4 separate regions of the Homo sapiens genome follow, and regions 2, 3 and 4 are each linked to region 1. The links come from fine-mapping of genetic effects on gene expression. A gene starts in region 1. Each other region holds a variant in brackets. All regions are shown on one strand. Distances are between the middles of the regions.

What was found. PIP is the estimated chance that this variant, and not a neighbour inherited with it, causes the effect.
Region 2: its variant is fine-mapped to the expression of ATP7B in whole blood (TOPMed, PIP above 0.99). The same link has a PIP of 0.9 or more in neutrophils.
Region 3: its variant is fine-mapped to the expression of ATP7B in whole blood (TOPMed, PIP above 0.99).
Region 4: its variant is fine-mapped to the expression of ATP7B in tibial nerve (GTEx, PIP above 0.99). The same link has a PIP of 0.9 or more in subcutaneous fat.

Annotation. Positions count from the first base shown.
Region 1 is chr13:52,006,713-52,014,457 of GRCh38, forward strand. ATP7B (ATPase copper transporting beta) reads right to left here and starts at 4,738. Exons shown (of 21, transcript NM_000053.4): 1 at 4,575-4,738. The coding sequence starts at 4,625. ALG11 (ALG11 alpha-1,2-mannosyltransferase) reads left to right here and starts at 5,686. Exons shown (of 4, transcript NM_001004127.3): 1 at 5,686-5,750. The coding sequence starts at 5,707. RefSeq lists silencers at 4,945-5,284, 5,335-5,444, 5,455-5,554 and enhancers at 5,675-5,804, 5,855-5,944.
Region 2 is chr13:51,845,693-51,853,437 of GRCh38, forward strand. It overlaps a transcript of TMEM272 not described here. Among named protein-coding and RNA genes, the nearest start is that of TMEM272, 4.4 kb to the left of the region's middle. RefSeq lists an enhancer at 3,486-3,986. The variant A/G (reference allele first, on the strand shown) is at 4,140.
Region 3 is chr13:51,891,718-51,899,462 of GRCh38, forward strand. It overlaps a transcript of TMEM272 not described here. Among named protein-coding and RNA genes, the nearest start is that of CCDC70, 34 kb to the left of the region's middle. The variant TGAGA/T (reference allele first, on the strand shown) is at 4,613.
Region 4 is chr13:51,944,616-51,949,408 of GRCh38, forward strand. ATP7B (ATPase copper transporting beta) reads right to left here. Exons shown (of 21, transcript NM_000053.4): 13 at 1,669-1,863. Among named protein-coding and RNA genes, the nearest start is that of ATP7B, 64 kb to the right of the region's middle. RefSeq lists enhancers at 756-825, 886-985. The variant C/T (reference allele first, on the strand shown) is at 1,684.

The DNA.
Region 1 (7,745 bases):
AGCCTTGCCACGCCCCTCACAGTCCCCTAAATGCCTCTTTCCATTTCCAGTCCTCTGGACCTTTATACATGCTGGTCTCTGCCTTCAATGCCCTTCTCTCCATGCTCCTGTGTGCCCAATCAATGCCTGCTCTTCCTGAAAGACCCACTCGAGCACCACCTCCCACTGAAGGAATTTTTCTGCCCCTTCTGTGGGTGCTGTACCATGTAGACAGCTCTGTCCCAGCATGCATCCAGCACAGGGGCTGACCTCTCTTCATCTATGCATCCCCCTGCTTGGCCCAGTACCAGGCAAACAGAAAGTGCTCCATAATGTTTGTGGACTGAAGGCTGAATGACCAGGTCACTGCTGCCCCACAGAGAGGCCTCTGAAGAGAAAACAATGTGGAGAAATCATGTCGAGAATCCATTCATTCAAGAACAACTGTGGTGCACCTACATGTGGGAAATAGTTTTTTAAACGGTAAAAACCCGGTTCCCATTTCAAGAAGCACAGAGTTGCAAATAAAAGCTATATTCATTAAATAATCATACCAGGTGGTATGACCAAGTGTCAAGTAAGTTTTGACAATAAAAAATCGCTGAGAAAGTCAGGCAGGCCTGGCTAGGACTCAATCCTAGATCTGCCTCTTATAAGCAAGGTACATCGGGCAAGTTACTTAACTTGTGTCTGGCTCAGTTTCCCCATCTGTAAAGCAATGATGAACTCTGATCTCCTGTTCTATCACTCCCACTCCTTCCCTCTGCCACAGCCACTCTGGCTTTCCTATTGTTCCCCAAACTCTAACATCATGTCTTCTGTACTGTTTCCACTCACGACACTTCTGACACCAAATGTGTGGGGTTTTTCTTCACACCAACCAATGCTCTCTCTCCAGACACTAACTGGGTGCCCTACAATTCAATTCAATTCCGACACCAACCATCTGGAGTTAGCACGGACCCCACAGGTAAGGGCTCAGGCCCACAAGACCACAAGAATGCCCACACTTCACATGCCAGTCGCTGGGTCTGGGCCATCTGTACTCCTGACCAACTGTAAAGTCAGGAGGTTCCTACAATTACCTCCTCAGGTTGGGTAATTTGCTAGAACAGCTCGCAGAACTTAGGAAAGCACTTTATTTAATATCACCAGTTTATTATACAAAATACAGCTAAGAAACCACCACATGGAAAAGATAGGGCAAAATATGGGAATGGAGGTTTCCAGGAGCTTCCATATCCTTTCCAGGAACCACCTTCCCAGCACCTTGATGTGTTCACTAACAGGAAGCTCTCCAAAACCCATCATTTAGGGTTTTTAAGAAAGCTCTATTTGTGATCCACTGCATTGGTTAAAAAAAAAAAGGCCAGGCACAGTGGCCTCACGCCTGTAATTCCAACACTTTGGGAGGCCGAGGTGGGCGGATCACGAGATCAAGAGATAGAGATGACCCTGACCAACATGGTGAAACCCCGTCTCCACTAAAAATACAAAAATTAGCTGGGTGTGGTGGCGTGCGCCTGTAATCCCAGCTACTCAGGAGGCTGAGGCCGGAGAATCACTTGAGCCCGGGAGGCACAGGTTGCAGTGAACCGAGATCCCGCCACTGCACTCCAGCCTAGCAACAGAGTGAGACTACCTCTCAAAAAACTAAATAAATAAAAATTTAAAGAAAGCTCTATTCTGCCGGCATCACTGATTAGATCATTGTCCACTGGTGATTGGCACAATCTCCAGAGGTTGGAGCACGGGGCTGAACATTCGAATCCCCTAATCACATGGTTGGTTCTTCTGGCAATCAGTCTCCATCCTGAAGCTATCTAGGGGCCTATCAAGAGCCCTCTCATTAACAGAAACTCAGGTAGGGGTGAAAGAGACTTGTTATGAATAACAAAAGATGCTCTTATCACCATCTCTCAGGAAATTACAACGGTTTAAGAAGCTCTATGTCAGGAACTTGGGACAAGACCAAGTATATATTTCTTCTTATCACATGACTGCCGTAGGACTCTCACACTTTATGGTTTCTCAACCTAGGCTACTTCTCTGAAATCTGAATCATTCAGGTCTCTACTCAAATCCTACCTTCCAAGAGAAATCATTCCCTGACCACCTACTTAAAACAGCATCTTCCTCTCCACCCATGTCAATCCCTATCTTATTCCCTTATTCTGCTTTCTTTTCTTTTCTTTTTTTTTGAGACAGGATCTTGCTTTATCACTCAGGCTGAAGTGCAGTGGTGGGATCACAACTCACTGTAGCCTCAAACTCCTGGGCTCAAGCCATCCTCCTGCCTCAGCCTCCCGAGTAGCTGGTTCGACAGGCACACACCATTATGCCCAGCTAATTTTTCTTTTTTTTTTGTATAAACGATGTCTTGATATGCTGCCAGGCTGGTCTTGAACTCCTGGACCCAAACTGCTTTATTTTCTTCATAGTACTTACTAGTACCTGAAATAAAGCTATTGAAGGAAACTAAAACATTTCACCTCAAAACAGACTTATTGGAAATATTTTGAGATGGCCGTTCAGAGGGCCTACAGACAAAAGTAGTCCTACTGTGAGGGAGATGAGCATCTGTTGAGAACCTCCATTGACGCAGCCAGTTTTTCTCAGAGGGCCCTTCCTTGTCTGGATCTGGGTGAGATTAGCTGAATTTGGCACCTTCAAGGTCTGAAACATTTCTTCTCCCTGAGGGCTGCTACCTGTGAGGTTTCATCTACATAAGACCACCTTTGCTAGCCAGGTCTCCTCTTCTCTCCCTCCTATAACCTGATTTACAACCATAACCTGTTTTTGGCCAAGCTTAGAGCCCCCACACTTTCTGTAACCTCAGGATAGTATAATTGTGGCAACCACCTTGCCTTCCTTTGAGATCTTATGTTGTAAGACTCTCACGGCACGTTAGTAAATGTGTATGCCTTCTCTCCTATTAATCTGCCATTTGTCAGTTGATTTTTCAGTGACGCTTCACGGGGCACAAAAGTTTTCCCTTAACTCCTACGCTATACATTTGTTTATCCCTTTTTTTTTCCTATCTCCAACTAGGATGTAAATTCATGAGGGCAAGGTCTCGGTCCTACCTAAATCCCCAGTGTCTAAAACTTTGAGTACTATGTGTTTGAGCACATAGTACACACAAAAAAATTTGTTGAATAAATGTTGATAACAAGATATAATACCTACATCAAAGGGTTTTTGTGAGGATTAAACGCGAGAGTGCACATAGAGGGATATGAGTGCCTAACACAATGCCCAGCACACAGTAAGCTCAATAACGCTGGTCAACGCTATTATCAGAGGATTCCAGAAGACAGGTCAACATGGGCAGGAGCAGTTACAGAACGTTTCAAGGAGGTGGCAGGTCTTGAGCTTGATTTGGAAGGATAATGATTTCTTTCTCTAGGTGGGGACACTGTAGGAAGTTGAAATCTCCTCTGTACAAGCCACCCCTCCCAACATTTCTTCATACTCCTATCAAATGCATAGTCATCATACCCTACAAACCACCTACTAACCAGCCTCTCTCTGTCTGTCCACTAATCCGTTAGTTTTCATTTCTGTATCACCGGAGCCTAGATGAATTCACTACTAAAGGGCACCCAGCAACGTCAGTGAATTAGTTTCAGAAATCTGTGGAAAAGAAACAGCCTACTGTTCTGTCCAGCAATCCAGGCCTAAGTATCTATCCTAAAGAAATAGTGTCAGCATTAAAAATCATGTACAAAGATGTTCACTTGCAAGAGAGAGAGAAAAAAAGTAGCAAACAGAACGTCCACCACTAGGAAACCATGAATAAACTATGATGCGTCCAAACTGTGCAGAGGTTGCACTGAATTAGACAGTTAGTGAAACAATCTCTAAGATATATCGTTAAACTGAAAAAAGAGAATGCACATACAGTGATCTCATTTAGGTAAAACAAAAATTTTAACACCTCATACAAATGAAACCTAAAGATTTCTCTGAATGTGTGCATATTACATATAGATACATGTCTTGTTAACCACTGTATCAACTCAACACTGTGTGCCTGAAACATAGAAAGTTCTCAATAAATATTTGCCGAATGAAGACATATGTACGTGAATAGAAAAAGACTGAAAAATAGATCTGCTTTTTGTGCAAAATATTTCTGTGCTGTTTCCATTTTTAAAAGACTGTCTTAATGTATTACTTGTACAATTAAAATGAATTTAAAACAGTTATAAAAGTTCCAGGACCTCGATATACCATATCTGGTCCAAGCACCAGGCTCTGAGTAACTTCTCCAGGTAACTAACTTCATCGTTTTGAGCCATTAGGGCTCTAGCACAGCAACTCGACGCTCACTTTATCTCTCCAGCATCAGACCCCTTAAAAGCATAAAGATGAATTTTGAGGTGCGGGGTTTTCCATTGCTCCCAAACATCAGTTGACGGCACACTTTTTCTAAAGGGTCCTTTTCTCCCACGCCAAGACATCCCTGGAGCTGGGGTCTGGCTCGGCCTTCCCTGCGCACCCCCTGGGGGCGAGTAAGCGCCGAACGCGGGGAGGAAAATCCTCCTGGTGGGAGTGAGCACGCTGCGCGGACGCGGGGGAACAAAACTCACTTTCCGACTGGCCCCTTCTCTGGCTGTGATCTGTCTCTCCTGCTCAGGCATCGTCCCGCACGGACACCGAATTCTTCTCTGATCTGGCTCAGAGCAAAAGGTCACCTGGTCGGTGGAGGAGAGCGGGGTGTTAAAGTCCCGGGAGAGGAGGCGCAGAGTGTGAGGGCATCGGCGCGGCTCGGCTCTAAAGCAAACAGGGGTCCGGGAACCGCCCCTTCATTTGGGACCGGGGAAGCCGCAGCCCTCTTCACACGGATGATTCAAAGTTGCGCGCCGCCGTCCTCCCGACCTGGGGGCACGGGGATGAGAGCGTGAGGGGAGAGTGGGCCTCGGACCCTCGCCCACTCCCCAGGTGGCTGGGAGTGCCCACCCTGGAACTGCCGGCCCCGCCGGTGCCACAGTGTTCTCTGCCGTGCCAGTGCCACAATGTCCTCTGCCGTGCCGGCGCCGCAGGGCGGAGGCCTGTCCTCCTCCGCGGTCTCGGCCACCTCGCGCTGGTGCGCTCCGACACTGTACTGGGATCTCACGCGTGTGCGGGAGCGGGAGGGCAGGTGAGCTGCGCAGAGCCGGGCCGCAGACTCAGCTCCCAGGGCTCACCCACCGCCTGCGGGGAAGGTGCCCGGCGGCGCCGCGTCGGGTCCGCTCTGCGCTGCCCCCTCCTCGGACTCTGCGCCTGGCTGCCGGACGCCGTGGGTCCCAAAGGAAGCAACCGCGGCAAGAGTGAACTCCGCACCTGGAAAATCGATCCGCTGTGCGCAAAGGCCAGCCAATGGCCTCCAACGGGCGGCGGGCTTTGGGCCGGGAACGGGGGCGCAGGCGCCCAGGCGGGGGCTTCTAGTGGGGGAGGTGGCCGAGGGAGGGAGCGACGGCTGTCAATCACAGGCCACGCCCTCCTCAGCCCAACCCCCCACTGCTGTCCCGCCCACGGGGGCGGGAGCCGTGTGCGCCACGCCGAACACTAGTCTACGCCTCGGCATATTCTATTGGCTGGAAGGCCGTGGGAAGCGGCTACCAGTAACCAATAGTAACGCACAATTGGCCCGTGGGGGCGGGGCGAGCACGGCTTGCTTTCTCAGGAGCCAATAGGGAAAAGGAAAGTGAAGCGTTTCCTGAGTTCGGGGGTCGGCGGAAGATGGCGGCCGGCGAAAGGAGCTGGTGCCTGTGCAAGTTGTTGAGGTGAGCAGCCGGTCGTGTGGGCTCACAGACGTTTTCTCTTCTGTAGGGGTACTTGCCCGTCCAGTGTAGCTAAATTTTGCGGGCAAATGGCCTTCCTTGTCATGAATCTAAGGTAATTTCTCAGGCCAATGAGCAGTCTTTCTTTTTCTTGGGGGTCTTCTATATAGACTGGAATAGACTAGGTCTTAAAGACTCAATTTACCGCGTTTTCTTCTGCTTCACTGTTGGCCGAGGGGTCGAGTTCCCTTCCCTGCTTCAGCTTTTTTTTTCCCTTTCACACTCCAGTTAGTCTGTCATAAATTATTCATATTCATTCCTTATTTTTCTTTACGATTGAGCCACGAGACATTTTCCAATCTATCATGTCTCTTTTCGGTAAAGAAGAAACCGGATCTTCCTTCTCATCTTAGTTTCTACTCTTAAACTCACCAAAACTGCCATTGTTAACACGTCACTTAAATATAAAGCTTATGTTGAATCCTCTGCTTTTTGATAATCTGTTACTTTAATTTTTATGATGTAAGAAGTTACATAAAATATTATTTTATTTGTATTACGTGTATATGCTGTTTCTTCTAGAAAAATTAGAAAATAGATAAGTAAAAGGAAAAAACCCCAGGAATGCTACCATCCGGAGATAGCCACTGTTAACATTTTGGTGAAAAAACTCCCAGGCTTTTTTCCACCTTTGTTGTTGTAGTACTACTGTATTTTAAATGCCTTGCCCTCCACTAATAAAACAGAAGGCCTAGTATATTCTACCTACCTAGTTTTTTTACCACCTACATATTTTTGTTCAGGCTGAAAATTTATAATTAACACCATAGCTTCCTGAATAGCAGTATATACCTAATTCTTTCAAAAGTTCAGGCATTTCTTCTTCGTTTTTGTCCACTCTACTTCAAATTCTGTAATCATTACTTTAAACATTTTGAATGAGAAAGTCTGTTATCAGAGCCTTTTGGTTCTTCCCTGTCATACGTAATATTCCTCAGTGCTTTACATTATAATGTTTAAATAAACTCACTAACCAGACTTAAAGGACAGGTTTAACTTTAGTTATTATGCAGCTTTTAAGTTAAATGTTTAATAGTTCAGTTTGAAAAGCTTGTCACATGAATTTTCCCACCTAAATTATTTGAAGGAATTGCCAGAAAAACCTTTACATTATATGGGTCAGCTGCATTTTAAATAAGCTTTTGAAAGAGTGTCCTGAGAAAGCAAACTGTCCTCTGTAGTGTTGCTTTTATGAATTCATATATTCCAAATGTTAAATAAATGATAAATCTTACCACTTTTGTCAGACTCTGTTCATCCTTTAAGGCAGTGGTTCTCAAATTGTGCTCCATGGACCATGCAGGTCCCAAGGCCCTTCAATGGATCCTCAACAAATCTGTTTTTATAATAACATTAATGTAATATTTGCCTATTTTACTATGTTGATAAGTGCAAAAGTGATAGCGGATAAAACTAAGTGATAGTGGATTTTAATTAACAGTGTGAAAAGGTCATTGATAGGGTTTCAGAGTCTGTATTGCAACTGACATTAAGAAACTGCATAACTTGTCAAATGTGGTCTAGCATCAGAGAAGAATATCTGTAACTAGCTGAAAAGTTAAATATATTTTAAACATAAGATCAATATATATTAAAATATACTCCCTTTTCCTACTACATGTCTAAGTTAGCCTGAATTTTCTTCATATACTTCAACAAAAACAACATATCACTAGATTGAATGCAGAAACAGAAAGGAGGAGCCACTATCTGGTTTCACGTTAAGCCAGACATTAAAAAGATTTGCAAAAAGTGTAAATCATTGGCACCCTTCTTGCTAAATTTCTTTTTTTGGTTTGGAAAAGATAGTTTTTTAATAAAAATATGTTAATGTGTTATGAAAGAATTTTTATTTTCAAATGAATTCATAAAAAGTTTAAAGTTCTTTAGTTTTCATTTCTAATATGCTAAATATTGGTAGATATAAGCAGTGTAAAC
Region 2 (7,745 bases), 160 kb before region 1:
TGTGAGGCTGTTGTGTGTCTGTATTGTAAGCAAGCACCTAGCAGTAGAAGTTCTCAGCTGCTGATTTATAAGAAGTGCCAGAGATTCTTTATTGAAATGCAGATTCCTGTACCACCTCCCAAAGATTCTCAATCTGTAGGTCTGGGCCTGGGCCCAGGAATCTGCAGTTTAGACTCTGCTAAGTCTCCTGTAGGTGCTCCATGGACCACACTTAGAGAAACTGGCGTCACATGACTTAAAGGCATTCTCCAACCCTGACATTCCAGGTTTTTTGTTGTCATTTCGGTGGAAAAGGCCAGTCTACTGGGGAGGGACTGGGGGAGGGACTGGTGTGAGGCAAGAGAAGAGCCTATTATGTAAAATGCAAGGAGCTGCTCCCTCTGAAGCTACCCCTGCATTGCACACCCCTGGGAGGAGGGCACCTCTCCGGGCTCACTCTAGGGCTGGCCCTGCCACTCTCCCAGTCCTGAATCCAAGGTGACCACTTCACACCACAGGACAGGGTGAAGCAGAGGAGCAAGGGGAGGAGAGCCTGCTAGAGGAAAGGACATACAGTCACAGTCATGAGCCACATAACAATGTTTCAGTCAATGATGGACCACACAGATGGTGGTTCCTTAAGATTATAATGGAACTAAAAAATTCCTATCACCTAGTGATGTCATAGCAGTCATAATGTTGTAGTGCAACACATTACTGATGTGTTTGTGGTGATGTTGGTGTAAACAAACCTACTGCACTGCCAATCACATAAAAGTAAAGTACATACAATTATGTACAGCACATGATACTTTACAGTAATAAAAAACAACGAAGTCACTGCTTTATGTATTTATACTATACTTTTTATCATTATTTTAGAGTGTACTCCTTTACTTATATATATTAAAAAAAGGTTAACTGTAAAAATGCCTCAGGCAGGTCTTTCAGGAGGTATCCAGAAGAAGGCATTGTTATCATAGGAGATGACAGCTCCTGCCTGTTATTGCCCCTGAAGAACTTCCAGTGGGACAAGATGTGGAGATGGAAGATAGTGATATTGATGATCCTGACCCTGTGTAGGCCTAGGCTAATGTAATGTATGTATAATGTATGGGCTAATGTATGAGTCAAAATTAAAAAAAATTATAAAGTAAAAAAGTTACAGTAAGCTAAGGTTACTTTATTATTAAAGAAAAATATTTTTAATAAATGTAGTGTAGCCTAAGTGTACAGTGTTTATGAAGGCTATAGTAGTGTGTAGTAATGTCTTAGGCTTTCACATTCACTAATCACTCACTCACTGACTCATCCAGAGCAACTTCCAGTCCTGCAAGCTCCATTCATGGTAAATGCCCTATACAGGTGCACCATTTTTTAATCCTTCATATCCTATTTTTACTGTACACAATGTTTAGATACACAAATACTATGTGTAGTATTTTCTACGTTTAGATACACAAATACTTACCACAGTGTTACAACTGCCTACATTATTCAATACAGTAACATGCCATGGTCTCTGGCCTTTTGGGAACAGTACTGGTCCCTAGCCTTTTAGGAACCGGGCCCCACAGCAGGAGATGAGTGGCAGGTGAGCAATCATTACCACCTGAGCTCCACTTCCTGTCAGATCAGCAACGGCATTTGATTCTCACAGGGGCACAAATCCTTCGTGAACTGTGCATGCCAGAAATCTAGGTTGCACACTCCTTATGAGAATCTAATGCCTGATGATCTGAGGTTGAACGGTTTCATGCCAAAACCTTCCCCATCCCCACCCTCATGAAACTGGTCTCCGGTGCCAAAAAGATTGGGGACCACTGGGTGTGTAGTAGGCTATACTATGTGAGTTTGTGTGAATACATTCTATGACCTTCACACAATGGCAAAATTGCCGAATGTCACATTTCTCAGAACATATACCCATGGTTCAGTGATACATGACGGTACTTGAATCTTCTCTTATCTCACACTGAGTGAGTGGAAGCAGAGTGACTGTGAGCAGTGAGGTCAGAGTCTTAAGGCTTCCCTGCCAAAGTGGTGGGGGTCTGGGAGCACACGGTGACCATAAGCCTGGCCTGGACGTGGCCAAAAAGGGGCAGCAGTCTTTTTTGAGCACATTTTAGCCCTGACATCAAAACAAACAAAATTTCAGGTGATGAGGCAGTCTTCCTGGGAGTTCAGGAAGGGAGAAAACAATGGCAGGTCACTCAGGAGCTTTTCCACATGTCCCCAAACATGCAGCAAAACATCAAAGAATATTTTTCTGCCAACAGACAACTGTACTTATGAGTACAGAAATAGGAGATTTTTGTGGGGGAGAAAGTAGGAGTCTTTGGAAAGTGATTATGAGACTCCAAAGGTAATGATAAATGATAGTAATAATAGCTCTATCAGTTAAGAAAAACGGGGAATCTGATATGGGGAATTAGTTACAAGAGCCACGGAAGAGCTGAAAAGTCATGCACGATGTCGTGGTGGAGTAACCCAGAGATTAGCAACTGACAGTGGAAGCAGTTGCTAACCCTAGAGATGTGAGTGGAAGACCACCACTGGAAATGCTGCCCAAAGCAAAGTAGGTGCGATTAATACCCCCACTTCACAGATGAGTAGCATAAGGTACAGAGATTAAAGGCATATGGCTACTAAGTGTGTAATGAACTTCAATTCAGGCCACGTGATAGAGTCCACATATGGCACCACTCCACTATTGCCATATGAATAAAGGGCACATTAGGGGAGATGATAGTAGAATTGAGTGAAAGTTGAATTCAGAGTATAAATTTTTAAATGCTTGTCTTTAGTTGAGGTGGTTCTCCTCATAAAAGTGAGTTCATTCATTCATTGAATGAATACTGCTGACTCCAAGCCAGATACTGTGAATAAAAAGATTACTTAATAAAATCCATGTATCCTATAAGGAATTTTGATGCAAAAGAGTAGTGAGTGAATGAGCACGTGCCTGAGTTTAATTACAAAGGCAACTGTGAGTTAATGAGGGTAGGCCTGACTTCTTGATGGAAGCTGTAGAAATGAAGGGAGATGCTAAAGTTGCCCAAAGACCAGGTTGTGCACCTCCAAAAGGAGCAATCAGAAAGCCAAGGGACACTGATGAGTGTTCACTCTCACTCTTCCCCAAGATTGCACAAAAGTTTGTCTTTGTCTTCGTCTTTGCTTGTGTGTTATTCCCCAACAAATTAGTTCTATGTAAACATCCTAATTCTTTTCATGCTTTCTTTGGAAGTTTTCCATTCTGATGTCACTCTTCTATTTGAGTCACCGTTTCTATATTTACCATCTATTCATCCTGACGGCTTCCTAATTTGGGAGAAAACCTTCAGGGTCCCTCACTTCGACTTCTACCTGAGTCAAAAAGCATTTCAATATAAGTTTTCATTTTCCTTTTGACTTTTCCCAGCATTTTAATTTTCCTGAGGACAATTTAAGAAAAAGAGAAACAGAATGCATGGTCCCACAACTAGTTCACAGTCAGGAAGAAGAAGAGTTAAATGACAGGCACCCCTGACCCATGCTGCAAACTTGAGGCCATTATGCTAAGAAATAAGCCAGCCACAGAAAGGCGAATGCTGTATGACTCCACTCACGTGAGGCACACAGAATAGTCATAGACATGGAAGTAGACTGGTGGTCACCAGGGGCTGGAGGAAGGGGAGCACGGGGAGCTGCTGTTTAAGGGATGTGGCATTTCAGTTTTGCAAGATGAAAAAGATTGGTTGCACAACAATGTGAATATTCTTAACACTACTGAGCTGTACATTTTTCAGTGGTTAAGATGTTGAGTTTTATGTTATGTGTATTTTAGCACAGTTTAATAAGCAAACAAACTCCTGGATCTGAGAAGCTGGGGGAGTCAAGGCCTAACATTCTAAGGGCCCTGTGGAACCGGGCAGTTGTCCAACATGCTCCAGAAAATCCCGGGGTCTCTTCAGCCCCAATTTCAGCGGTCGCAGAGGCCCTGTGGGAGGATGCGCGGACACGCCGCTGTCAGGTTTCCCGCCTCAACCCTTTTACTCAGGTCTGAAGTGGCGCCTTGGAGTGGGTGTGAGGAAAGGAATAACTCTCCTGTCTTCCTGTCCTTAACCTGGGCTCCAAGGCCGAGGGTCTAAGTTCCCAGGGGCAAGTGTCAGGGTTGGGAA[A/G]ATGCACAACGCCACCTACTGGCGCCTCTTTGCCCTCCCTCCCCATCGCTTCCTGCCGTCTGTGGTCTCTCAGTGGGACCTGGGCTGTCTCTTTCAGAAACAGGATGGACACAGTGGCTCATGCCCGTGACCGAGCACTTTAGAAGGCCAAGACAGGAGGATTGCTTGACACCAGGAGTTCGAGACCAGCTCAGGCAATGTATTGAGACTAAAAAACAAAATAAAAAATTAGCTGGGTGTAGGGGTGTGTGCCTGTAGTCCCAGCTACTTGAAATGTTCCCCTGGGGAAAGAAAAACCCTTCTGTAATTTTGTTTGAGATTGCATTAAGTTTATACACAAATTTGGGGAGAACTGGCATTCTACTGCTATTATCAACTACAATTTTACGTTGTTTCTCTCTCCCCCTCTTTATTAGGTGTTAAGCCAAATCACCTATTAAGTAATGATGATTTCCTTATAATATTTATACTTGTTTTATTTCTTTGCCTAATAAATTGGTTATTATTTACAAAACGGTGAATGCTATCCACTTCTTTATTTTAATAATGTCTTCTGGGATATTTTTAAAGAATGTAAAAACTAGACAAGGGCCCTGCCCAGTCAGAATGGAGACACCAGTCAGCTGGTACACTTACATCAATGAGCAATTATGGGCACACAGTAAGCCCTGAGTCTTTTATCATCAAGTATAATGTTTGCTGATTTATAATAAATTTAAAATAATATTTTAATTCTTATTTTACCAATAATTTTTTCTCAGGTGGGGATAGGGGGTATGCATTGCTTCTGTGATATTGTTGCTACCGGTCCATTTCAATAAACAGAGCTATACCATATCTATTTTTAAAATCATGAGTACTTTTTGATATTTAAAATTTAAATCTAATACTATACTCTTTTGTGTAATTTATTTGATTTTTATCATTGTATCCCTTTTCTTTTATACTGAAAATTTTGAATCCTAACATTATTAACGTATTTATATGCTTTGTCATACAATAGAAAGAAATGTTTCAAAGTAACAGTACAGCACTTCTACAAAAATAAAATGACCAAGTTGAAGTTTCAAATTTATTTGAAGTTCTTCTCCTCTTTAGAATATATCCCGCTAAGGAGGGTGAGTCAAAGAAGTGTGCCCTAGGATCATGTGACATAATCCTTCCTCTGTAGGGGTATGGTATATATTTGATGTATGGTTATGTTCATGTGTTCATTTCCAATTTTAAGATTTGTTTAAAAGAAGAGGTACTACAGCACTTTGGGAGGCCAAGGCAGGCAGATCCCTTGGGCCTAGGAGTTTGAGACCAGCTGGGCAACACAGCAAGACCCTGTCTCTACAAAAAGTACAAAAATTAGCTGGGTGTGGTGGCGTGCACTGATAGTCCCAGCTACTTGGGGGACTGAGGTGGGAGGATCACTTGAGCCTGAGATGTGGAAGGTGCAGTGAGCCATGATCATGTCACTGCACTCCAACCTGAACTACAGAGTGACATCTTGCCTCCTCCGTAACCAAAAAAAAAGAAGAGGAAGAAGAGGAAGAAGAGGAAGAGGAGGAGGAGGAGGAGGAAGAAGAAGAACAAGAAGAAGAAGAAGAAGAAGACGCCCTACATTTGTAGTCATTTTTTTTTTTCACTTAATAATGTATCCTGGGAATCTCTCCAAATCAGCACGAAAAGACCTTTGTTTTACCTTTTTTTTTTTTTTTTTTTTGAGACGGAGTCTTGTTCTGTTACCCAGGCTAGAGTGCAGTGGCATGTCCTCGGCTCACCACAACCTCCACCTCCTGGGTTCAAGCAATTCTCCTGCCTCAGCCTCCTGAGTAACTGGGACTACAGGCGCACGCCACCATGTCCAACTAATTTTTGTATTTTTAGTAAAGACAGGGTTTCACTATGTTGGCCAGGCTGCTCTCAAACTCCTGACCTTGTGATCTGCCTGCCTCAGCATCCCAAAGTGCTGGGATTACAGGCGTGAGCCACCGCGCCCAGCCTGTTATATATTTTTTTACAGCTGCATAGTACTTTGCTCTGTGGATGTGCCAGTTTATGTAAGTGGTTCCCTATTGCTACAAAATTGAGTTACTTCCAATCTTTTGGAATTACAAACAATACTCCGATGAATAACCTACACAAGTATCTTTCTGTAATTGTGTACATGTACCTGCTGGATAAATTTCTAGACATGGAATTGCTGGGTGAAAAGGCAAATTCACGTGTAATTTTCTTAGTTTCTGACAAATCCCCATACATGGGGGTTATAACAGTTTGTATTCCTACCAGCACTGTATAGCAGGGCCTATTTCCTTCCAACTCTGCTAACAGAGTGTATTGTCAAACTTTTGGATTTTTGCCAGTTTGATCGATGAGAAATGCAACAGTTTTCTTAATCAATTGCATTTCTCTAATTATAAGTATGGTTGAAAATTTTTTTCATATATTTAAGAGCCATTTGCATTTGTCTGCAACCAATTTGTTCATATCCTTTGGCCATTTATCTATTGGGTTGGTGGTCTTTGTCTGCTCAATTTCAGAAGCTCTTTATAAAACGGGCACTGTGGATATAGCAGTGAACATGACAAAGTCTCCTCTTTCACAAAGCCTGCTTCCAGGGCATGATTCCTTTATGGCTGGTGTGGCTAGAAACAGTTCTCTTCTTTCAATACAGAGACTGAGGCCATGAGCAGTGATGATTATGTTGTCATTGTCTTCATCTTTGAGCAATTTTCCAGTTTGATCTACTTTTCCAGGAAAATACAGTTGACCCGCGGCCGGGCGCGGTGGCTCAAGCCTGTAATCCCAGGACTTTGGGAGGCCAAGGCGGGCAGATCATGAGGTCAAGAGATCGAGACCATCCTGGCCAACATGGTGTAACCCCGTCTCTACTAAAAATACAAAAAATTAGCCGGGCGTGGTGGCGGGCTTCTGTAATCCCAGCTACTTGGGAGGCTGAGGCAGGAGAATTGCTTGAACCCAGGAGGTGAAGGATGCAGTGAGCCAAGATCGCGCCATTGCACCACTCCAGTCTGGGTAAAAAGAGCAAAACTCCGTCAAAAAAAAAAAAAAAAATACAGTTGACCCTTGAACAATGAGTGCTTAGGAGCACTGAACCTGTGCATAGTCAGAATTCCATGTGTAACTTTCAACTCCCCAAAAACTTAGCTACTAATAGCCTAATGTTGACCAGAAACAATAGCATAGTCAATTAGCATATGTTTTGTATGTTATATGTATTATATATACTGTGTTCTTACGATAAAGTAAGCTGGAGAAAAGAAAATGTTAAGAAAATCCCAGGCCAGGCGTGGTGGCTCATACCTGTAATCCCAGCACTTTGGGAGACTGAGGCAGGCAGATCACCTGAGGTCAGGAGTTTGAGACCAGCCTGGCTAACATATAGTGAAACCCCATCTCTACTAAAAAATACAAAAGTTAGCTGGGCTTCGTGGCGCATGCCAGTAGTCCCAGCTACTTGGGAAGCTGAGGCAGAAGAATCGCTTGAACCTGGGAGGCAGAGGTTGCAGTGAGCTGAGATCATGCCACTGCACTCCAGCCTGGGCAACATAGCGAGACTCCATCTCTCAAAAAAAAAAAGAAAGAAGAAAGAAA
Region 3 (7,745 bases), 110 kb before region 1:
GAAATGGAAGGAAAAAGAGGCAGGACTGTGTCTTATTCATTTTTGATTCGAACCCCTAGCTTCTAGTCCTGAGTATTTGGAAAGAGTATTTGGAGGAGGGAAGGGTGAGCTTGATCAGGATTGTTTGCCCACTGGGCAGTGGGGGTTGGAGGGGGGCAAGGGCAGTCAATAGAATGGAATTGAAAGTCAAATAAAAGCTTTGTAAGGTCAATGATTTTTTGAAAATATGTGTAAACTTGTGTTAACCAAAATTCTGAAGATCAGGTGTATTAGTAATGCTATGCGAGCTCACATTTAGGGATTTGGCTTTCTCCCAGTGGCAATACGGTCCATTTTCATACCCAGATGTGGAAGAGGTGGGGAAACAGGGCTCAGGGAGAAGAGCTGAAAGGCTCTCCTTTCCCTGCCTCATCTGAGTCTCCTGTGGCACCTGCTGACTGTGGAGAAACTCAGGAAGAGCAGGACTAGTCTCTGCCCCTCAGGGGTGGTGGGATCTGAGACTCTTGGAAGACTGGGAATCTTTTCCTGTCAACCATCAATAGATATACTGGTTTATGTTTATCGAAGCCTGGAAGTGGGAACATCTACTCCGCTGTACACAGTTTTTCATCATCATTGTCATCTCATCTCAGCCTGGAACATCTGCTGTGCCCCAAAGCATGCAGACTTGTGTGGCAGAAAAATAGGGGGCACAGGTAGGCAAGTTATCTGCTTGCTTTCAGACCCATTACCCACCTTCCCCTACTCTGCTTGGTATTGTTGGGGGATGGCTTCTGTGCCCACTTGCTTCCTGTTAGATTGAGCCAATGGAGGCATGGATGGAAGAAGAGGGAAACTTGGTAATACACCAGCTCCACCTCCCTTTCCAGTCTTTTCTTGGGCAGTGACTACATCTCTCTCTGTAGGTGACCACATTTCCTCCTTGGACCCAGCTCCATCACACAGCCTCTTCTTGGCTTCCATTTCCCATTCCCCATGATGGCCTTTCCCCCATGGTTTCAGCCATAGGGTCCTCAGGTGGCATCTCATGCAGCCCCTCCTCCACAGTTCCAGCTCACAGTTCCTGGGTCTGGTGGCTCAGTCCCCTCCCTTTGTTCCTCCGTCCTAGCAGTGGTAATGGCTTCCTGCAGTTGCTAATCTCTGGGTTGCCTCACCCTCCCCTGGTTTTATAACGTCCTTCTAACTAGCCTGCTGTATTAAATTCCGTCCACAAAACTCCCTGCCTTTCTTTACTGCACCCTGACTACAACACAAAGGTAAATGAACCTAGTAAAAGTTCTTGGCTAATTTGTTCAGCTCTTCCCATTTTCTGACAAACATCATACATCCATCCTTCATGCTCCTTGAGTTGTCTGCACACACTCCTTAAACATCCACCTGTCCTTGGCAGTAACAATGAGCTCCCTGGCAAGGACTTTGTACCAGGGCCTTCTCTCCAAGGGTTCACAGGAACAGAAGTCAAACTAAGGAGACCTTCTCAGATGGAGATTAGCTTAGTTTTCTTTCTTTGCAGTTCTCGAGTATTTGTTTAGAGGATTAGGAGAGAGCTTAAATTATATCTGTGTTTTAGCCATTTTAATTTGCCAGTATTAAATGCATCAAAAGCTCTGTCTCCCTCAGTAAAGAAGTACATGCGAAAAGCATCCCAAATTAGAAAGTCTGGGCCTTGTTTCTGTGCTGAAGTATTGTCCCTCCTTCCCTGCACCCTAATCTCAGATCCCCCTCTTCCTTTAGCTTCACCAGGACCTGCTGCTTCAGAATCACTGTGGTCCTGAGACTAATCAGGAAAAAACAGCAACAACGATGAATGTGTGTTTTTCTGGGATTCTCCCCAAAACAATGTTTACTTTAGAGGAGCTGTACAAAAATCTCTTCCCCTGGCTCACACCGTATGCGCTTCTGCTTGGCCTCTTCACATTGAGAATGTGAACATTCAAATGATCAGCATCAGCTGAAGACTCGATCACCAGGGAATGTGATCGTGCTCAGAGGAGGCCACACAGTTGCTTCTGCGTTTGGGAAAATGTTTTTTATTTAATTAATGTTATTTATTGGATAGGTGCCCAGAATTAAGGTCAGTCCTGAAAAGACTGTTTTTTAAGATGTAAAAATAATTCCAAAAGCTTGTCATCTTGTTGTGGAGAAAACAAATATAATACATGAAATCCTCAATGCAGAACTTTGTATGATTTAAATAATAACGAAGATCACAATAGTAATAAATGATGAAGACAGTAGTGCTATATGCAGAGCAAAGAAGGAAGAAGTCATCACACAGGACGGAGCCTGGAAGGCCTGAGACAGGCCAGCAAGTTTCTAATCTTCAAATTGAGACTAAATGGATACAGACACACCACACCCCCTGCATTGAAGAACTGCTTGGGGAACAAGTTTGTAGTCATCACAACTTTAGAGGTTAAAAAGTGTCAGCAACAATTCAAATCATCAAGGAGGGAGTGGGATGTATTGGGACAGATAACTGTGAAAGGACAGGGACAGAAGTGGCTGCAGGCACAACTGGATTCAGGAACTAAAGCAAAGGCATGAGTGCTCTCCAGCTCTCCACACCTCATGTGTTGGGCCTGTTCTCTCTCCCTACAGACACTCTTTCTTTGTGAGTCAGGGGACTGGGACATCAGCACAGGAAATACCAGCTTTATGCCCTCCCAGGTAATAAAAATCCAAGATAGAAGAGCCCTACATGTGGAAGTTCAGTAAAAGGACTCTGATTGGCCAGGTTTGGGTGACGTATTCACCCTTGGAGCCAATCACTGCAGCTGGGGATGAGGCGATGGTGGTTGGCTGGGGTTTTGCTGGGGAGCTAAGTTCTGTAAATCTGAAAATTACAGCTGCAGGGTGAGAAGCAGATGCCCAGTGGATGTTCAAAGGAAAGGCGCGAAAGGACTGAGAAGTTTGCAAAAGGGCAAACCCAAATGTGCAAATGGAGCCTGCAGTCGCTTAAAGCAGTGGTCCCCAACGTTTTTGGCACCAGGGACCAGTTTCGTGGAAGACAATTTTTCCATGGACCAGGCTGGGGAATGGTTTCAGGATGATTCAAGTGCATTACATTTAGTGTGCACTTGATTTCTATTATTATTACATTGTAATATATAACGGAATAATTCTACAACTCACCATGATGTAGAATTAGTGGGAGCCCTGAGCTTGTTTTCCTGCAACTAGATGGTCCCATCTGGGGGTCATGGGAGACAGTGACAGATCATCAGGTGTTAGATTCTCATAAGGAGTGGGGAAACTAGATCACTGGCATGCACAGTTCACAATAGGGTTCATGCTCCTATGAGAATCTAATGCCACTGCTGATCTGACAGGAGGTGGAGCTCAGGTGGTAATTTAAGTGATGGGGAGCAGCTGTATATACAGATGAAGCTTCGCTTGCTCACCTGCCACTCACCTCCTGCTGTGTGGCCCAGTTCCTAACAGGCCATGGACAAGTACTGGTCCATAGCCCAGGGGCTGGGGACCCCTGACTTAAAGGAAAAAGGAACTTGGGTCAGCCTGGCTGAGATGCATGTGGTATTGGGGTGGTTTGTGGGGAGCTGCAGAGAACCCATAACCAGCATAGGCTCTGATAGCATTGTCCTCTTCAGCTGCCATTGTGGGGTGGGAAACTGCCTCTGAAGATGGTTTTCTAAATATTCCTTATGGATGGGGCTCACACTCGGTAGTAACTGCAGGGAAATCGAGCCACAAGACAGTGGCTCAAGTCAGATTCTCTGTGCTTTAGGCAGGGAATGGATTCTGGCTGTCTCTTGGATAGCCCTGAAAAGAACTCTGGTGGGAAGGTGCAGAGGGGTGTTTGCTATGGGCTCCACCTGGGACATTTATCCATCTACCTGTGGGACAGGGCCTGAAGCTAGGGCTACCAAGATAGCAGACCAGGCATTTCCTCATCTTCAACCTCCTGTCCCCTCACTCCTCCCAGCTAGACCCTGACACCACTGCCTACATCCCCCCACCCTCTGCCCTGGGATGGGGGAAAAAATAAAACAGCTGAGCATGCAGCTAATGATGATATTTACAGCTACCAGTAGGGAGTGTTCCCAATGCGCCAAATGCTTAACATCCGTGATCTGACAGCCCCCCTGTGATGGTAAATATCCTCTCCACTTCTCAGATTCCAATACACAACCCCTGAGACTCAGGATGCTCTTGCCATGGTCTTTTTTCCCTTTTTAAATTTTTACAAAAATTTCCCACATAGCAACCAACGTAACCACAAGCCTCTTCTAACAGCTGCCTGACCCTCCTCCTCTTAGCCTAAACACTTCATCTCTTTTCTGTGGACAATGCCTGCTTTCAAAAGCTCTTTTCTTCAGGGAGAACAAGAGTCTGCTAAATTCTATTAGTGTTCAGCAAACCCCAGGGCCCCAGTCTCAACTTTGGCACAGGAAAGTCCAACACTCCACATCCCCTTCCTGGAGAAGCCAATCTGTGGGAAATGTAACTCTCAGCCTACAAGAAAGCTTCAGACTGACTTGTCTTTTTCTCCAGCTCCTTCTAGCTGTGCCATCGGGGACAGCTTGGTGAATATAAAAGATTTTCAAAGCCTATAACAAGCCATATAGCTCTAGAGGGGTGTGTGTGTGTA[TGAGA/T]GAGACAGAGAAACACGTGTGTGTAACACAAATGTATGTTTTTAGAATAATTATTGAAGTTTTCTTATCATTTCAGAGACTTGGTTTTAAGTGAAGGAACTATGTGAGCAGCAGCAGCATGTCCAGGAGAGGGCACCCTCTCACAGCCTGGCTAAAATGCTCAGGGCAGGTCCTGGTTCTGCAGTCACTGCCCTCTGGGGAAGGTTGTTCAAGTTGTCGGTGCACATGCCCCATGCACCCAGCCGGATGCCCTGAGAGGGGGATGCTGTGATTATCAGACAAAGCCTGTTGCGACCACCAGAGGAGGTCCATCTCTTCCCATGAGGCACCCCTGCAGCGGTCTTCTTACAGTGTCTCCAGAACCCGGCTGAGTACTTCCAACTGTGCACTGATCCTTGCCAGAAGCTTGGCCAGTTTGGTCGGCTTGGGGGTCTGACTGTTGTGAGAACAGTGGTCTCAGTTGGTCATGTGCTCAGGACAATTCAGAGAACTTAAAGAAACCCAGGTACCTGGGCTCCACTCCAGACATACTGAATCTGAATCACTGGGGTAGGACCCAGGCAGGTATGGATTTTTGAAACCCCACAGGTGATTTAGATGAGCACCTTGACAGGAGTTAGTCTGCCGCAGTTCCATGTACACCGTCAGAAGACACAAGACTCCTGAGTCAGAAACAAAGCACAGCAAGCAGCATAAACTTCATGTTCAGGTTGGTTCCCTTTGTTCTCTGGCACCACAGGGTGATGCAGAGTGGCCCAGGTGAATACAGAGCACACATTGGGTTCATCACAGCAGAGGAGCCCCAAGTTTCAGAAACCCAAATCTTTTGAAAGGCTGAAAGGACTGCAGGTAAACCTGCCCAACTTTTACACCATAGTAAGACATTGTCTTTTTTTTATTTTTTGGAGACAGGGTCTTGCTGTGGTGCCATCATGACTCACTGTAGCCCTGACCTAGGCTCAAGCAACCATCCTATCTCAGCCTCCAAAGTAGCTGGGACCACACATGCATGCCACCATGTCTGGCTAATTTTTTTTTTTTTTTTTTTTTTTTTTTTTTTTGTAGAGATGGAGTCTCATTATGTTGCCCAGGCTGATCTTGAACTCCTGGGCTCAAGTGACCTGCCTGCCTCAGACTTCCAAAGTGCTGGGATTACAGGCATGAGCCACTGTGCCTGGCCAAAATTATCTTTATTATCATACACAGTAAGAAAATCTGTCTTCCCTGGAGGGGGACTCTTATTTTTGTCTGCCAAGATGATTTCCTTTATAATCTTCTTGAAAAAAATAGTTGAAAAGATAACTAGAACAAGGCTGGGCGCAGTGGCTCATGCCTGTAGTCCCAGTACTTTGGGAGGCCGAGGTGGGTATATCACCTGAGGTCAGGAGTTGGAGACCAGCCTGGCCAACATGGTTAAACTCTGTCTCTACTGAAAATACAAAAATTAGCCAGGCATGGTGGTGCGTGCCTGTAATCCCAGCTACTCAGGAGGCTGAGGCAAGAAAATCACTTGAACCCAGGAGGCGGAGGTTGCAGTGAGCCAAGATCATGCCATTGCACTACAGCCTGGGTGACAGGGTGAGACTCCATCTCAAAAAAAAAAAAAAAGGGCTGGGCGCGGTGGCTCACGCCTGTAATTCCAGCACTTTGGGAGGCTGAGGTGGGTGGATCACAAGGTCAAGAGATTGAGACCATCCTGGCCAACATGGTGAAACCCCATCTCTACTAAAAATACAAAAATTAGCCAGGCTTGGTGGCGTGCACCTGTAGTCCCAGTTACTGGCTGAGGCAGGAGAATCGCTTGAACCTGGGAGGCAGAGGCTGCAGTAAGCAGAGACTGTGGCACTACACTCCAGTCTGGTAACAGAGCGAGACTCCATCTCAAAAATAAATAAATAAATAAATAAAATAAAATAAAAAGATAATTAGAACAAAAGTGCAGTGCCCCTGCTCATAAACATGCAGAAATACAAGAAACTCCTGGGGATTTTTCTCCTGACACACTCCTGGTTAAGAAGCACTAATGCAGGATATTGTTCTATATCTACATGCTTTTCAGTTTTCAAAGAACTAATTGAGAAATGAGCTCCTTATAATAGAGAGGATGGCTGCCTCATGGATGGAGAAATGGGCAACTGACTTATGGTGTGATGGCAGCTACCACTACATAAATATCATGCATTTTCTGAATGTTTTACAAAACAAACATCAGATTCACATTTGCAAAAGTAGGAGTAATGTAAGGGTTAAACTAAACAATATATGCAAAATGTTGGCACATACTAGATAATAAATGTTAGTTCTCTCTCCTCTTCTGCCCTTTGCCTACTTCACAGCCTATCCTGGCTGCACAAAGCCAACAAGAATGGCTTAGACTTATATCTTTTTCCTGCTAAGACGGCACTGTTGGAAGGAGTCCTTTGGGTCCTTTAAATGTGTTCCAGGAGAGGCACCCAGCATGCTAAAAAGGTAATAAAAATGACTGTGCCACCGGCAACCTGTTATCTAGGATTTCCTGATCTACCACTCACTTGATTCTACCTTGTACCTGCCTGTCATTCCTCCTCACTTTCTCTGCCTCAATCCCTGCTCCAATCTCACAGTACTAAACCTGTTCTCATCCACTGCTGATCACTGCTGGCCTTGTCAAGGCCACCTTCTAGAGACTGTCTAGACTGCATGTCTTACTCCCACAGCTCTTACTTATTAATTCATTTAGTAAGAATAATGGTAAGTAAATGAAACTATCTCTATTCACAGATGATATGATCTCTTATCTGGAAAATCCACAAAACACGCTTTCAGAACCAATGAACAAGTACAGTAAAGTTGCAGGATATGAGGTCAATATATAAAAAATCGATTGTATTTCTATATACTAGCGATGAATAATCTGAAGATGAAATCAAGGAAACAATTTACAATAGCATCTAGAAGAAAAAATACTTGAGATAAACAACATAGGTGCAAGGCTTCATAATCACACTGTATCCCATAAATATATACAGTTATTATGTGTCAATTAAAAACAGTAATAAAAGCCAGAAAAGGGTATAGCGACTGAAAGGTTTTTCCAGTGTACTTCTAATCAGCAACATTTGGCACTTGCAAAGAAAATGCAAGTCTTAT
Region 4 (4,793 bases), 64 kb before region 1:
AGGTCAGGAGTCAGGACCCTGAGGGACACCTGCCTCCCTGTCCACTGCCATCCGCCGAGCCCAACCTCAGCTTCCTTTTGCCTGCCTAAGTGCAAAAGCTACTGGGAATAGAGTCCTCACACTCTGAGTTCAAGAAAGGAAAGGACTATTCTATGGCCATAATGACAAACAAACCCCCAGAGCCAGTTTTAAGTTGGTCACACTTAGTCAATGGCAGTCTGCAGAGTCCCCACACCTCTGGGCTCAGATATGGGCAGCAGCTACATTCAGGTACCTGCACTTCCATGACCAGGGCCAGTCGAGCCCTGAGCCCTGCTTCTGAAAGTCCAGTAATTCCTGAAGTGTATAATTTTACCCATTTAAGGCCAGCAGGTTGCTCTTCTCAGACCATGTCCCACAAGCAGGGTTCTCCCTTACAAGCAAACAATAATTCAGCTTTTTGTTTCTGATGCTGAGCGGTGGCCTTCCTTCCTTCAACACACTTAACTCATCTTCCTCCAGGGATTCTTGCCAGCTTTCAGCGCAACCTTAACACTGCAGCCGGAATGATCTTCCCAACACACGATCCAGTCACATCACGTGGGTATGCCATCCCCTACGTGGCTTCTAGGCTAACGTTCAGAACACTTTACTAAATCTTCAGCCTTTGGATTCTGGCCCCTCCCTCAACGGCCTCATCTCTGGTTCCTCTCTCTCAATGATTTTCTTCCAGTTCCTCATTTGCTCATTCAACAGATAACTTCTGAATGCACTTGATGTCTCAGGTTAGATGCTGGGGATACCGCGGGGAGGGGAAGTTCCACCTCCACAGGTGCTTTCCACCTTCTGTCCCCATTTTGGAACACTCTTCCCCAGCTCCGTTGTCCAGCTCTCACTCAACAGTAAGGTCTCAGATGAACGTTCGTATTCGCTTCCCTGACCACCTGCAGCACCCTTGTCCCTGAGTCGAGCACCCCAAGTCTAGGATTGGCCCCTGTTCAAGTGTCCCCAGGACGTCAAGCACCACCAGTCAATACTCAGTATCTCGTAATACTCAGTCAGCTTTGCTATTTACTTTTTCACTGTCTGTCTTTCCCCCTGGTGGGCTCCTTGGCGGCTGGAAACCATGACCATCGCCAGAACCCAGTGCAGGGCTCACACGCAGTGAGTGCCCAGCAAATACTGATTAAATAGGTGAAAGTGTGGAAGGCCAGAGGTTAGTAAGTTGGGCAAAAGGAAGACTCTTCACAAACACCGTCACTCACTCTTCACTCCCCAGGGTCACAGGACCCACCACTAATCCCACAGATGTCACGGTGGGGCTTTTGTCCTGAAGCCTGGCTACCTGGGTGTGAATCCCAGCTCTGCCTCTGGTTAGCTGCAGGCGTTTGGTCAAGTTACCTAATCTCCTCCTGCTGCAGTTTCCTCATCTGTAAAATGGGAATGATAAGCACCTACCACACAGAGTTGTTAATGCAATTAAATCAAGTAATGTTGATAAAGCGTTCCATTATATGACTGGTGGCTACTCTGTTGCTACTGTTGTTATTCCCAGTTATACTTGACTTCCTATTCTATGTAATTAACACTGCTGTCTTGAGTGGCTCTCAGGCTTTTCTCTCAATGTGAAATAGTAAACAGATACTACTTTCATCTCTCAGGATGGGGAAAGCCGTGCTACAGGCTGACCTTGTGCGCCATCTC[C/T]AGGGGCTTGCCTCCCTTGATGAGGATGCCGTTCTGCGCGGCCACCCCGGTGCCCACCATGACAGCCGTGGGCGTGGCCAGCCCCAGGGAGCAGGGGCAGGCAATGCACAGCACCGTGATGGACGTCTGGAAAGCAAACCGGATGATCACCTCTGTCTGGGAGATGTGCTTGTTGGGGTTCTGAAAACAGGACAGAGTCAGAGGCAGGTTGAGAGTTCAATAAGGAAGCTCCCAGAACTCTAATCACATAAGGACATTTCAGGGGGGCACTGGACACAACGTGACGAACTTGGGTTCCGGAAACAGATGGTATTCCACACTGCTCTGCCATCATAGAGAACACGTTACTGCTCTCCACATCCCAGCTATCCAACTTCATCCTACAGGTTTCCCTCAAAGAGGCATTACAGGAGCAGAGTCAAATAAAAGCCCTTGATAGGGGAAAGCAGACTCTGGAGATGGACCACACAGATCCAGATCCTGGTTTCCTCATACACAAAATGGAGATGATAATGCATAGCTCATAAATTGTGGCAAGGATTGAATGAGGCAATACACATATAAACATATAAATATACACAGTACATAACACCTGGCATAGGAGCGGCATTTAAGAAACAGTAACTATTATCGTTATTTTTCTCATCATTAGGAAAGCTTAAAAATGCTATTCTAAGGTGATAATCATATAAATAAGAAAAGATGCAAGGATATTTACCACAGTGTTTTGTTTTGTTTTTGTAATGATAAAAAATGGAAACAACCAATACGGAATTGGTTAATTAAACTGTAGGTGTGATGTATATAATGGGATACGAGGCAACTATTGGAATGATGATGGAACATACTGATATGGAAAGGTACCAGCAGCACTGCAAAATTAAAAAGCAAGTACAAAATCGCATGTGCTGGGATTTATTCGTGCAAAAATCTCCGCCTGTATCTGAATACAGCATTTCAACAATACTGGAAAGGTATCCACCAATATGCAAAAAAATTACTTCTAGGGATATGATTTGGAGGTATCTTTATTTTCTTCTCTGTATTTTTCACTATTTTTTCTTTGTACCCAAAACAAACAAAATATGACCTACTTTCCAGACACTTGGTATTATTTGCATTCTGAGAGCTTGAATTATCTTGGTTTATTTTTAAAAATGGCTGGTGGCTATGGAGTATAATCAAGAGATACTATGTTCACTTACTTATAGTAAAAAGCACAGTTGTCTAAGGTAAGGCTATGGACCACAGCCTCTTTAGCTTCCATCTACATTTTATTATTTCACTCTGAAAGGCAGGATTCTAAAATAATGTATTATTAAAGGGGTCTTTTAATTTTCATAGAAACAGTTATATTTAGGTAGAGGGATATATTAAGATTTTTAGACATAAAGATTATGTAATCTTTTTTAAAAATACACTAATTCTTGTCAAAATCACACCTGGCATTCTGATAGGACTGGGTGGACTTCTGGAAGTTACCATGAGCCCTTCTCTACAATGACTTTTGTACAGCAGAGAGATGACAGTATCTTAAAGGAACATGCAGTACCTCATTTGCCAGCATCCTCCCTGATATTGCAGATAAAAACAAAAGAAGCCAAAGTAAGATGGAAAGGCATGGAACAGCAGAAAGCCACAGATTCCAACTTGTTTAGGACTGAGTCTTCCCATGGCCATATGCCAACGCACTGCTTTCCCGAAAAAGCCGAAATTATAGGCAGTCAGGTGCCATGGATAGCCACAGGCACATTCTACCAATATATCTGTAAGTTACTTTTAAGAGCACTGAGGTTCCTTAGATGTCAGAAAGTGTTTAACTTGAACATTGTTCAATTTAAGATGGGAAATTTGAGGGAGAAAATACATCCTAGTAAATGACATGTGTCCTGAGAATATTTGATATACTTTTAATTATGTGAAGGATTTTTTTTAAAAGAAAAAAATTATCCATTCTGTATTTGTACTTTTTGCTACGTTGCCCAGGTTGGAGTGCAGTGGCTATTCACAGGCACGATCATAGCACACTACAGCCTCAAACTCCTGGACTCAAATGATCCTCTGCCTTAGCCTCCCAAGTAGCTGAGTCTACAGGTGCATCACCACACCCAGTATGGTTTCTCATTCTATGGCTCTATGGTATAACAAGCACTAGACTGGGCTAGGAATAAGATAAGGTAAAAACATTGTTCCGCTCATTGTGCCATTACCAAATACTGTTCTAAGTGTGCCATTAGCTTTTTAAGTACATTATCAAGGTTTCAACCTCAGTGCTACTGACATTTGGGGCCAGATAACTCTTTGTTGTAGGGCCTGTGATGTGCCTTGCAGGATGTTTAGCAGCATCCCCCCAGTCACAAACACCGAAAATGTCACAGCTGCCAACTGAGAATCACAGATGTAATATAGCTTTTATTCCTCAAGCAGATATGTTTTTTTGAGGGGTGGCCTGTATTTTCCTTTCTTTTTCTGAGGTTTAATAAAACCATATTTCCTAAGATAGTGTTCTTCAACCACTTTTTTAAACTCAAAAATGTATATTCCATTGCCTCACATACAATGTTTAGTAAATATTTAACTATTATAAAAAGCTATTCACGCCTGGGTGCAGTGGCTCACACCTGAAATCCCAGCACTTTAGGAGGCCGAGACAGGCAGATCACCTGAGGTCAGGAGTTCGAAGCCAGCCTGACTAATACGGTGAAACCCCATCTCTGCTAAAAATACAAAAATTAGCTGGGTGTGGTGGCGTGTGCCTGTAGTCCCAGCTACTTGGGAGGCTGAGACGGGAGAACTGGTTGAACCTGGGAGGTGGAGGTTGCAGTGAACCGAGATCAAGCCACTGCACTCCAGCCCGGGAAACAGAGGGAGACTCCATCTCAAATAAATAAATAAATAAACAAACAAACATAAAAAGCTATTTACATTACTTGGGAAGCTGGGAGGTCAAAGATGGTACTGGTAAATATATACATCAAAAGATATTTTTCTTAAAATGTATTAAATAATATTATCATGCCATTGAGATTTAAAGTGAACTATTTTCTATGATGTATGCCTCATAACCTCAAAAAGGACCAATAATACATATTGTAAATGCTTCAAGCATT